Linked DNA regions of Homo sapiens: all the other regions are linked to region 1. Evidence: fine-mapped expression QTL. A gene starts in region 1. Each other region holds a variant in brackets. All regions are shown on one strand. Distances are from middle to middle.

Region 1 (2,618 bases):
ATTAGTCCAAAGATCCCCAAACAACATTTAAAGGCTGTCTACAAATTCAAGCTAAAAGACTGTGTACAAATTCATTTGTGTGTCACAAAACATTTAATACTGAAAGAGATTCTTATTCAAATAGGCAGTGTGTAAATGTGGGGTCTGTTAACAGTTCAAATTGCAGATTCCTTTCCTTCTTTAAGTTTTCATTGCACCACCACGAACTAAACCATTTAACATACCTCAGAGGTCTCTGGGTACCTAGTCTCTCAGAGGCCTTTGGAGGCCCACGAAGGCTTATCTTAACTAAAATTGGCAGGGCTGGCTGATAAAGTTAACGGAACTCCCCATTTTGGAGGCAGACTTAGTAATGGTCAAACGAAGAAACTGTTGTGGTCTGTTCTTAAAAAGCTACTAGTATTTAGTGCTTCACAGAGGAAGTAAAGAAAGCAATAATCCGAGATGAGGAGGAGCAAATACAGGCGTGGCGGTAGTTCAGGACTGAGTCTACAAGGGCGGTTCTCAAGGGCGTCACAAAATCCTATGGAAGGCTTGGAGGACGGCACTCCTGGATCTGAGCCCTACGTCCCAAACACCTTCAATCGTATTGTGAGGAAGAAGACCTTTTACACACTCCCTGCTGCTGGCCCCCGGCCCCCTCGCCCCACCTCCGAGTGGTCACATCACACGGCGGGAGCCGCGGTCAGCAGCTGTGATCACACCCCCAGGACCGTGCTCTGCGGGCTGGGCTCGAAGCCTTGGGACGCGGCACTTCCTGGTTGGTACGGGATGCCGGTCCCATCGCCCCCACCAGCCCAGTCATGCCACCGCGCACCCGAACCAAGGGCGCCCGGATGACCTGGGGACACCACACACACTGCACCCGAAGCCCTGTGGCGGCGAGGCGGTGCATCCTGCAGAGGACGCCTGGGCTTCAGCCTGAGCCTGCGCGGCTCTGCGCTCCAGGCAGCCGCCCGCGCGGCAAAAGTGCGTGCCAGAGTTGTCAGCTTTCACCCTGCAGGAATTCCACCCGAAGGCGTGCGAGGGAGGCCCTTGGGGATCGCTAGGGAGTCCGCCGCCGACTCACTCGCTGAAATCCCGTCCAAGTTGGGCGGGGAGCGGCCAGCTGCCCAGGTTGGGCGGAGGAGGGACGGAGGGCGAGGGCAGTGGAAACCCGGCTCCCACGGGCGCCCGGTGATCCGGGTCTCGGCGCGGCTCCTACCTGCAGGGCGAAGGGGCCGCTAGCACCTGCGCGTTGGCGGCGGACTCTCAGGGCTCGGGTGCCTCTGGCACAGCTGGAGCTCAGCGGGAGGGAGGGAGAGAGGGCGGGCCGGAGGGGGCTCTGCGCTGCGCGGCCGGCAGGAACTCTCCGCCCGGATTCGCCCCGGATTCGCAGGGGTGGAGCGAGGCGGTGCCAGGTCCCGGGGCGTCGCGGTGCCGGCTGGAGGCCCCAGCGGGGCAGGTCTCGCGACTGGGCCTCTGATCGCCCGCGTTCCTTGTTCTCTTTTCCCAAAGTTTCATAACTCGACCGCATCACCCTAGGGAATGCTCGCTATTAGGACCATTATCAGGTCCTCTCGAGCCGCCAAGGACCAGCCACCTTTCCCGGAGCTTTGCCTATGATATCTATTCTTCGACTACTGCGGATAGTAGCCACAACTGGTCCAACTTATAAGTAAGGAATCAGCAAATCAAACGGCTAAATAACTTGCCTGAGGTGACATAATTAAGAGACTGGAGCTTTGCTGGAGTCTTTATAAGCCTTCTTGCACCTCCTTAGGGAAGTGTTATCGCCAATTTACAGGTAAGGAAATGAAGGCTCAGAACCAGCCCGAGGTCACACAGCTTAGATGGAGGGGGACGGGAATTTGTGTCCCGATGTCTCTAAAACTGGTTATAATTCAGAAATCTTAGCATAAAATAATAAATTGGGAGCAAAACAGGGAAAAGACCCATTCCACCTATGGAACCGTTCAAACACGGCAATTTTGCTGTTTTCAGTCCACTTAGAATAAAGTCTTAAGAAAAAGAGAACCAGTTGTCATGTGGCTTGAATAGCAGCCCTTTGGGAATGTAATTTTGAATATAGGCCAGTTCCAACCTCATTACACGATATTGCATCCCGCCAAAGCCAGGGGAAGCAATGGCCTCCCCATGCACCAAACTGCTAATAACGTCAGCCACTTTAAAGCATTTAGTGGATATTACACAACTGCGACTGACCAAGTTACATAATGTCTTACTGCACACATGGCATTGCATGAAATGAAAAATATAATATACCAGTCCAAATTAGGGGAGGGGGGCCAAATTATAGTCTGGAACTCAGTTTTCCTGTAACCTACAGTTGCTCAGCCCTCCTTAGACCACATTTTTGTCTCTTGAGCACATCTTTTCCTAATGATAGAAGAGTCACACAGCCCTCACTCTTTCCTTGTTGACATAAATGATTGATGTCTTTTGAATCCTATGATACTGACAGATTTTTACAATTAAACACATGACTCTCTGAGCAGAGTATTGCCTAAGAGGAGTTTAGTAAGTTTCAGACAAGCATGTTACTGGAAGGCAGAATACCCTCTCTCCTCCCCTCTTTCTCAAGCTTTATTAGTCACAGATGGTCTGATAAGTCTTGT
Region 2 (2,618 bases), 170 kb after region 1:
CTACCAAAAGGGAGAAGTGAGACTAAGTGTACATTTTATGACTCCGAGTTCAGTGCTCTTTCAAACTATAGGCCTGTCTTATAGGACTGGAAATCCCTTAATTACTTCAAACCCTATGAGAAGATGCCAGTGTAATGGTTGTAATATTTTTGAAAATAATAAATTGATATGTTTACATTTATATTAACTTCCAAAGCCTAAGTCCTTCTGACTCAAATAGCAGATAGGCTGTCAGGTGGGGGTGAATACCACCCATCTGGGAAATGTTCACGGTCACTTATGATTGTCACAGGTCTGTGGAATGCTGCTGGCATTTAGTGGGTGAAGGTCAGGGACATTAAATCTCCAGCAATGCCTAGGGCAGTCCTACCCAACAAAGATTTGTCCTACCCTAACTTCAGTGCTACTCTCAGTGAGGAACACTGGTAGGACAGCATGGTAGATGGCCTCCAAGACCACGCTGATGATCCCCACCTCCTGGTATTCCACCCTGTGTAGTCTCTCCCACATTGTACTAGAGTCGTATAACCGGTGGAACATGGCAGAAGTGATGCTATGTCACTCCCAAGATTGCAGCTCCTGTCTTGGTCACTGCGTCTCTCTTGGATCACTAGTTCTGGGGGAAGCCAGGTCATGACCAGCCCTACAGAAAGGCCCAATGGTGAAGAACTGAAGCTTCCGGCCAACAGCCATGTGTATGACGTTGGAAACAAATCCTCCAGTCCCAGTCAAGTCTTCAGAGGCTGTAGCCCTGAGTGACAGCTTGACTAAAACCTCAGGAGAGACCTTGAGTCAGAACCACTCAGACAAGCTGGTCTCCGATTCCTGACCCTCAGAAACTGTGGAAGATTACAAATGTTTGTTGTCTTAAGTTACTAAGTTTTGTGGCAATTTGTTATGTAGCAATCGATAACTGAGATAAAGAAAATAGTCATGGCTAAGTTTAATGTCTGTCTATCTATCTATCTATCTATCTATCTATCTATCTATCTATCTATCTTTAATTCGTAGCAAGACTGTCTTAATAGCCAGCCACAATTGACTCAGTCCACAGAGCTCTAACATGAACCATGGCAGTAACTCAGGATATGATGTAACAGAAGTTCATGTCTACCTAGAGAGAAAGGG[G/A]AAGTACAAACTCTTTGAGGAGGAAATAAAAAGATAAGGGAAGTAGAAGAAAAGAAGCATTCAGATATTTGGGTCTTAGCTTCTGATTCCAGGGCCACTGTACTTGGTTGTGCAGTGTTTATTCAAGGAGTCAAGTGAGGGTGGGTATCCAAGCCTTGTTTCACTTACCAAGATTGGCAGCCCTTGTCCAAGGATATCTTTCTGAAAGATCTCACTTTCTAATTTTCATAAGGGAACTGTATTAGTTTCCTAAAGCTGCCATAACAAAGTACCACAAACTGGGTGGCTTAAAACAACAGAAATTTATTCTTGCACAGTTCCATAGGCTAGAAGTCTGAAATCAAGGTGTCAGCAGGAACGTGCTCCCTCTGAGACTCTAGCTGCAATCCTTCCTTGACTCTTCCTAGCCTCTAATAATGGCCATCGAGCCTTTGCATTTCTTGGCTTGCCGCTGCATCGCTCCAATTTCTGCCTGTGTTGTCACGCAATGGTCTCTCTCTGTGACTCTGCCTTAACAGGTCATCTTTCATCTTCTTATAAAGGCACCAGTCATATTGGATTAAAGGCCCAAACTATTCCAGTATGACCTCATCTTAACTAACAACATCTCCAATGATCCTATTTCCAGATAACATTACATTCTGAGATACTAAGGGTTCAATAGATAATATAGGACTTCAATATATCTTTTTAGGGAACACAATTCGACACATACCAAGACCTATACAAGTTAGCATTCTCTCTGCCCACCTTTTGGATCAAATCAAGTGTGTAGATGGAGATAATCAGATATGTTTGGAGGTTTTTCCAGAGCAGGGAGCCTTTCCTAACTTCTTCGGATAGACACTGAAATAAATTCAAGTCCTTTAGAGGAACCAGAGCTTTAGTATGGAACTGTCCAAGCTGCTTAGAAGTAGCTGAGGAACAGATGAAGGTGGAAAGAAGGTTGGAAAAGTGCCCATAAGGTCTCTCGTGTCTCCCATGTGAAGTAGAAGGGACTCATGAGTCCCCACATAGTCTTGTTAGGGATGGCTGAGTAGAGAGCCAGTGAACCTGCCATAGGGCCACCGAGGCATGGAGTTAGAATAAACTTTCCCAACTCTGTCAGCTTTTGCCGCAACTAAAGGACCTGCACTACCAGCAACAGCCTAAGGTCCTGGTGGAATCAAGAGAATGAGCATAAGTTTCACAACCATGAACGTCAGTAGCAGATATCAGCAGGGTTCCCTATAACTGAGAGGGAAAAGAGACATTATCCTGGAGACCATCAAGGGCCTATTTTAATCTGATAATCCAAGGACTAGTGACCCCTCTCCCTGCCCGACCTCCAGTACCGCGCGGATTCCATCTATAGCCAGATACAATGTTGGTGAGAAGACCTGGAAAGGGAGTGAACTCAGAAACACTGCATATTTACCCAAAATGTACAAATTAACCCAAGTGTCTGCTTTAAACTAAAGATATTGCTAAAAGAACTCTTTAACTGACAA
Region 3 (2,618 bases), 22 kb before region 1:
TATTTTTGTGATCAAATTACTTTCTCTTGGCAATGCCTTCTTTTTTTTTCATTAAGTACCTGGGTGCCCCCAAGTGGATGATGGTTCTCTCACATTGCAAGAGCTGGTTGTACAAAATGCAGCACCCAAGAACTTCATGACCATATTATCAACCTAGGAGAAAAATGTTATGGATTTGTGCACCAAGAAAGGAATCTAAAATACATTTGCATATTTTATAACTCATTTGAATGTCATCATACCCAGAAAATAAAATTCAGGCCATTTTTCCCTTGTTAATATTCATGGTATGGTGTGGTATGTGTATGTGTGTTGGGGGCATGGTACAAACAAGGAAGGTTGATACAAGTTAAAGAACAGCCACCTTCTATGGAGCAGCAAGCATATTATCACTGAATTCTCATTTAGGAAAAGAAAATATTTTTTCCCTGGTAATTTAATGAAATTTAGATATTATTAGAACCAACTTGGTTTTTTTTAAGAAAAAAAAAACTAGAAAAATATTTTGTAAGAAAAAAAAAATTGTATGATTGTCAGCCTCAAGAAAAAAATTCAGCCGGGTGCAGCAGTGGCTCATGCCTATACTCCCAGCACTTTGGGAGGCTGAGGCTGGTGGATCACCTGGGATCAGGAGTTTGAGACCAGCCTGGCCAACATGGTGAAACCCCATTTCTACTAAAAATACAAAAATTAGCTGGGCATGGTGGTACACGCCTGTAATCCCAGCTGCTCCAGAGAATCACTTGAGCCCGGGAGGTTGAGGTTGCTGTGAGCTGAGATCGCGTCATTGCACTCCAGCCTTGTGACAAGAGCAAAAATCCATCTCAAAAAAAAAAAAATAATAATAAATTAACTTTTGTGTTTGTGAGTGCATCTGCACTTCTTTTTTTTTTTTTTTTTTTTTGTAAAGACTGAAAGGAGTATTTCTGGGCTGGTAAACTGATGAGATGAATGACAGAGTGAGAAACAGGCTTATCAGTTTACCAACTGCTGAAAAAACCAAGCCAGGTTCACAAGGTAACAACAATACAGAGGTGATAGAAATAAATTTTTCCTTAATGCATGGGATTCCTGGATTACTCGTATACCTGCATTCATTCAGTTAGTGCTTCAATAAACCAAGCAGTTTGCCTCTGGTTTTCTAATATCCCGTCTCTCTATTAGCTTCCCAAATAAAAACTCAAGCCAAGAGACAATATAACAACAAATAAAACAAGGTAACAAACTTTTATTACACATTTGTTGAATTGTTTAAAAACTTTTCATGTTTCCTGAACACTCATCCAGGAAAGTACTGTCAAGATGATGACGAAACTCAGTTTATTCCTGGACAAAAGAGCTTTGACACATCTGCTTGTGGTTATCTACGTTCATAAAAACACATCACTGTCATCAAAGGCTTAAGACAAAGAAAAGCATTTATTAAGTTCTGTCTATATATAGTACTTCAACTGCCAACTCTGGTAATTTGTTTGAGCTTAGATTCTCTGCGTCATGAGAGGAGTTGGTTTGCATCTGTTAATGAGACTGTTTTTTTGAA[C/T]TGTATTCCTTTACTCCAATATGTATTGCATAACTACCCTGTGCTATGCACTCTGCTAGGCACTGAGAATTCGAGGATGAATAAAACAGACATTGTCCTCAAAAAGCTGGCAAACTCATGGAGGAGGCAGTCTACATGGCCCAGCCAAAAGTCTACTGTGCACAAACAAAGCTGTGCAAACACAGAGGGGAACAGAAGTAATTCAGCATGCTAAGAAAATGGTGGTCAGGGCCAACTCACCAATGCACAGGATTTTTCTATCTACAGGCAGACAAGGGAGGAAGGGCATCCTATTCAAAGAGCTCCAAAGGAGAAAAGCACATGGCACGTTCTGGAACCAAAAAGCCCTGCAGAGGGCGTGGGACAGAGATGGATGTATGTACATTGCAAGGCTGGAAATAAAGTTGAAAAAAATGCATGGCAGCCACATACAGAAGGGTCTTGAATGACACTCTAAGGCGTTTCAGATCCACTCTTGGGTGATGGGAAGTTCATGGAGGGATTTAAGCTGTAGAATAATGTAATCTAATTTATGCTTCAGAAAGATGGCTCTGTAAAACTAGGTACACGAAGTCAGCAGTATTCCTCAGATAAGAGCCCCTTTGGGCAGTGGCCAGAGTGGGAATATCTGTATACAAAAGACAAAAAAAAGGTACAAATGAGAAAAAAATATTTGTGCTATTGAAAACTTGGACATCTTTCCATTCATTTTAAAAGCAAATTTTAAGTGCTACTAACTTTGATGAGTTCACAATGGCTGATGACCCTCAAATTCTTCACTTACTCTTCACTGTCTATGACAGAGGAGAATAAAGCAGAAAACAAAACAAAACAAAATGCATTAATACCAGTTCCTGATTTTAGCCGATAATGGTAGCATCACTCACTTGCTGCCAGATATCAGAATGAAGAAATACTAACTGCTGTTTTTACCTATGTCTCTCTCTTCATGACTACTAAATAATAGTATGTGATGTGGCTGGGCTGAACCACATTGCCCAGAATTCCCCTTCTTGTAGGCTTCCACGTAGGGTCAAAGGATATTCTCTCCTAAGAGGTGGGGAAAAGAAAGGAGACA
Region 4 (2,618 bases), 40 kb before region 1:
TTCAACTTAGCACTGATGGGGAAAGGGATCCTTAAAGTTTAGCATATCACCTCAGAGATCTTTTTTAAGTACCTATTTCTGTCTCCCTTCCCCCTCAATTTTTTTTAAGCAGAGAAGAACATGAAAGAACAGACCCTTTCTAATACACTGTATTTCGCAGTGGGGAAAAAAGGAGAATAAAATGGCAATAACAGAAGCATATTAGCATATTTAAAACACTAGTACATTACCCTGAACTAAAGCATCCTTAAAGTAACATGAAAGCAAGAGAAACTATATTTCATAAAGTGTTGCAAACTTTAAAACACCAAATTGAACTACTCCTATAGAACAATTTCATGCCAGATTGCTTTGGTGGCAAATTAATAAAGGCAGAATTGCTCTTTAGATCTTTAAATTAACGAGATTAAGGAAGACAATGTCTTTCTCTGTGCTTAATTATATTGACTTAATTTCTTAATTACTATTAACTATACTTTTATGTTTTACAAGTCACACTCCATTTTTACAGCTGTTCTTTAATCCTCGGGTAATCTCGTATTCTGAAGAATCACTTGAGAATAAAAACAGCAAAACTGAAGACAAAATTCAATTGGGCTTAATCCACCTGTACATTCTGCCTGAATCAATTCTTATGCCAGTATTTTGAGGCATTCCAGAAAAGTGCCAGACTTTTCAAAGAGAAAAATTAAAATGATATTCTGGTTCACTGAAACTCCAAGGAGTAGGCCTGAAGAAAAACCGTGCATCAGACAAGCACGCACCAGTGGGGTGAGGGAGGACAACCCCAACTGGGGCCCAACACTCCACTACTTAACGTTTCAAAAAATAAAATCAACTGTGTATAAAATCATATTTATACCTAGAAGGTCTAGTGCGACGACACAAAGAAAGCAATTATAAGAAAGGAACTAGGCTAGGCAAGGTGGCTCACGCCTGTAATCCCAGCACTTTGGGAGGACAAGGCAGGCAAATCGCTTGAGCCCTGGGGTTGGAGACCAGCCTGGGCAACATGGCAAAACCTGGTCTCTATAAAAAAGTATAAAAAAAAAAATTAGCTGGGTGCGGTGGCATGCACCTGTAATCCCAGCTATTCAGGAGGTTGAGGTGGGAGGATCGCTTGAGCCCAAGAG[G/T]TTGAGACTACAGTGAGCCATGATCATTCAACTGCACTCCAGCCTTGGTGACAGAGCAAAACCCTATCTCAAAAAAAAAAAAAAAAAAAAAAAGGGGGCGGGGGCAGGGCTGATATTTACTAACAAGACCTCTGGACTGCAAATCCAACACAGATACTAATATGTCATTTCCACTTGGCTTCCAGTTGTATTTAATATGGTCAAAAAATGCATATATTATAAGGAGAAACATAACCCCCTAAACCTCTGCAGGATAAACGAACTCACATTATTTTCTAAAAGAACGCAGCAACCCAGTCTGTCCTATCATCACACCGTGAGCTCAGAAAGAAAATCTGACACACGCAGCAGAAAGTGCAAAATGTTATTTACTAACCTGGTGCCCCTGTGAAAGCAGTTGCTCCATATCACCTTAAAGAAAGAATCCTTACTATGAAACCAATCTCCAAGGCAGCTGATAGCCAAGAGGTGGCAAAATCGACTACCCTGAGAATCCAAATAAACGGGCAAAGCCTTCCTGTTCCCAAGCCCAGTTTTGGCTGACTCCCTCAAGGCAACTTAAGTCATAGCCAAGCCCACAAAGCACTTTAGCCTATAAGCTTTAGTAATGAACTTGAAACCACTCCCCATATGTTAAAGAGACACCGGACTGCTGTGAGAAATAAAACCCACATACAGAATGAGCTACAGCTTCAGGCTGCACTTTTGTACTTGCTGCCCAAGAAAACCATAACACAAACTTAAACAAAGAGAACTCTCACTCCCTTCTCTCCCCTCAGACACTGCAATAAAGTGAATGATTAATTTTAAGCAAGGGGATACAGTCTGCCCTCCATTAGGGCCATGAAATGACTTTTATATTGTTCAAGTTGTGTGGCAGTTATGGAACAGATAGCACTGTAATTTCACATTGCATAAGAGGGACATATGAAGTTATCATTTCTGAGAATCAAATGTAGATAGTATTACTATTTTCAGATAACATTGAATAAGCTTAAAAACCTCATCAAATCCAACGATTAACATAAGTTCAATAGGAAATTTTGTCAAAGAACCTTCTAACTTCTGATTCTGACTTAGTGTCTATAAATCTTAAAAACATTCTTATAATTCAGTTTCACCACCTACATTTAGAATGGATGTATAAGCTAAGACACGTCTTTTAACATGGATCTTTAAGCTGCCTTTTAAAATGGAACTTAATACCACTCACTAAGATTTCAAAATAAGAAATTTATGTTTCATTCTAGAAAAATGTAGTCAATCAATTCCTTAAAGCAGTTAGATCTTAAAACAGAGTCAGTAATGTTCTAGCATATTGTTAGAACATCAGCTTTTTAACACAATGTGTTCACAGTATACTTATTTTCCCCTAGTTTTCAACTCCAAGAACAGTTTTAATTCTAATGGCTTGTTGCCATGATTTGTATTTTGTTTAAATGAGACTTATTTCAACACAATAACCAAGGTTTTTGAACTTTAATT

The links. PIP is the estimated chance that this variant, and not a neighbour inherited with it, causes the effect.
Region 2: its variant is fine-mapped to the expression of PLD1 in whole blood (TOPMed, PIP above 0.99).
Region 3: its variant is fine-mapped to the expression of PLD1 in lung (TOPMed, PIP above 0.99). The same link has a PIP of 0.9 or more in whole blood.
Region 4: its variant is fine-mapped to the expression of PLD1 in tibial artery (GTEx, PIP above 0.99).

The regions. Positions count from the first base shown.
Region 1 is chr3:171,809,195-171,811,812 of GRCh38, forward strand. PLD1 (phospholipase D1) reads right to left here and starts at 1,289. Exons shown (of 27, transcript NM_002662.5): 1 at 1,205-1,289.
Region 2 is chr3:171,977,000-171,979,617 of GRCh38, forward strand. The region is part of intron 3 of LOC105374217 (a long non-coding RNA gene); the gene reads left to right. Among named protein-coding and RNA genes, the nearest start is that of FNDC3B, 61 kb to the right of the region's middle. The variant G/A (reference allele first, on the strand shown) is at 1,129.
Region 3 is chr3:171,787,368-171,789,985 of GRCh38, forward strand. All of the region lies in intron 1 of PLD1 (phospholipase D1), which reads right to left. Among named protein-coding and RNA genes, the nearest start is that of PLD1, 22 kb to the right of the region's middle. The variant C/T (reference allele first, on the strand shown) is at 1,541.
Region 4 is chr3:171,769,686-171,772,303 of GRCh38, forward strand. All of the region lies in intron 1 of PLD1 (phospholipase D1), which reads right to left. Among named protein-coding and RNA genes, the nearest start is that of PLD1, 39 kb to the right of the region's middle. The variant G/T (reference allele first, on the strand shown) is at 1,134.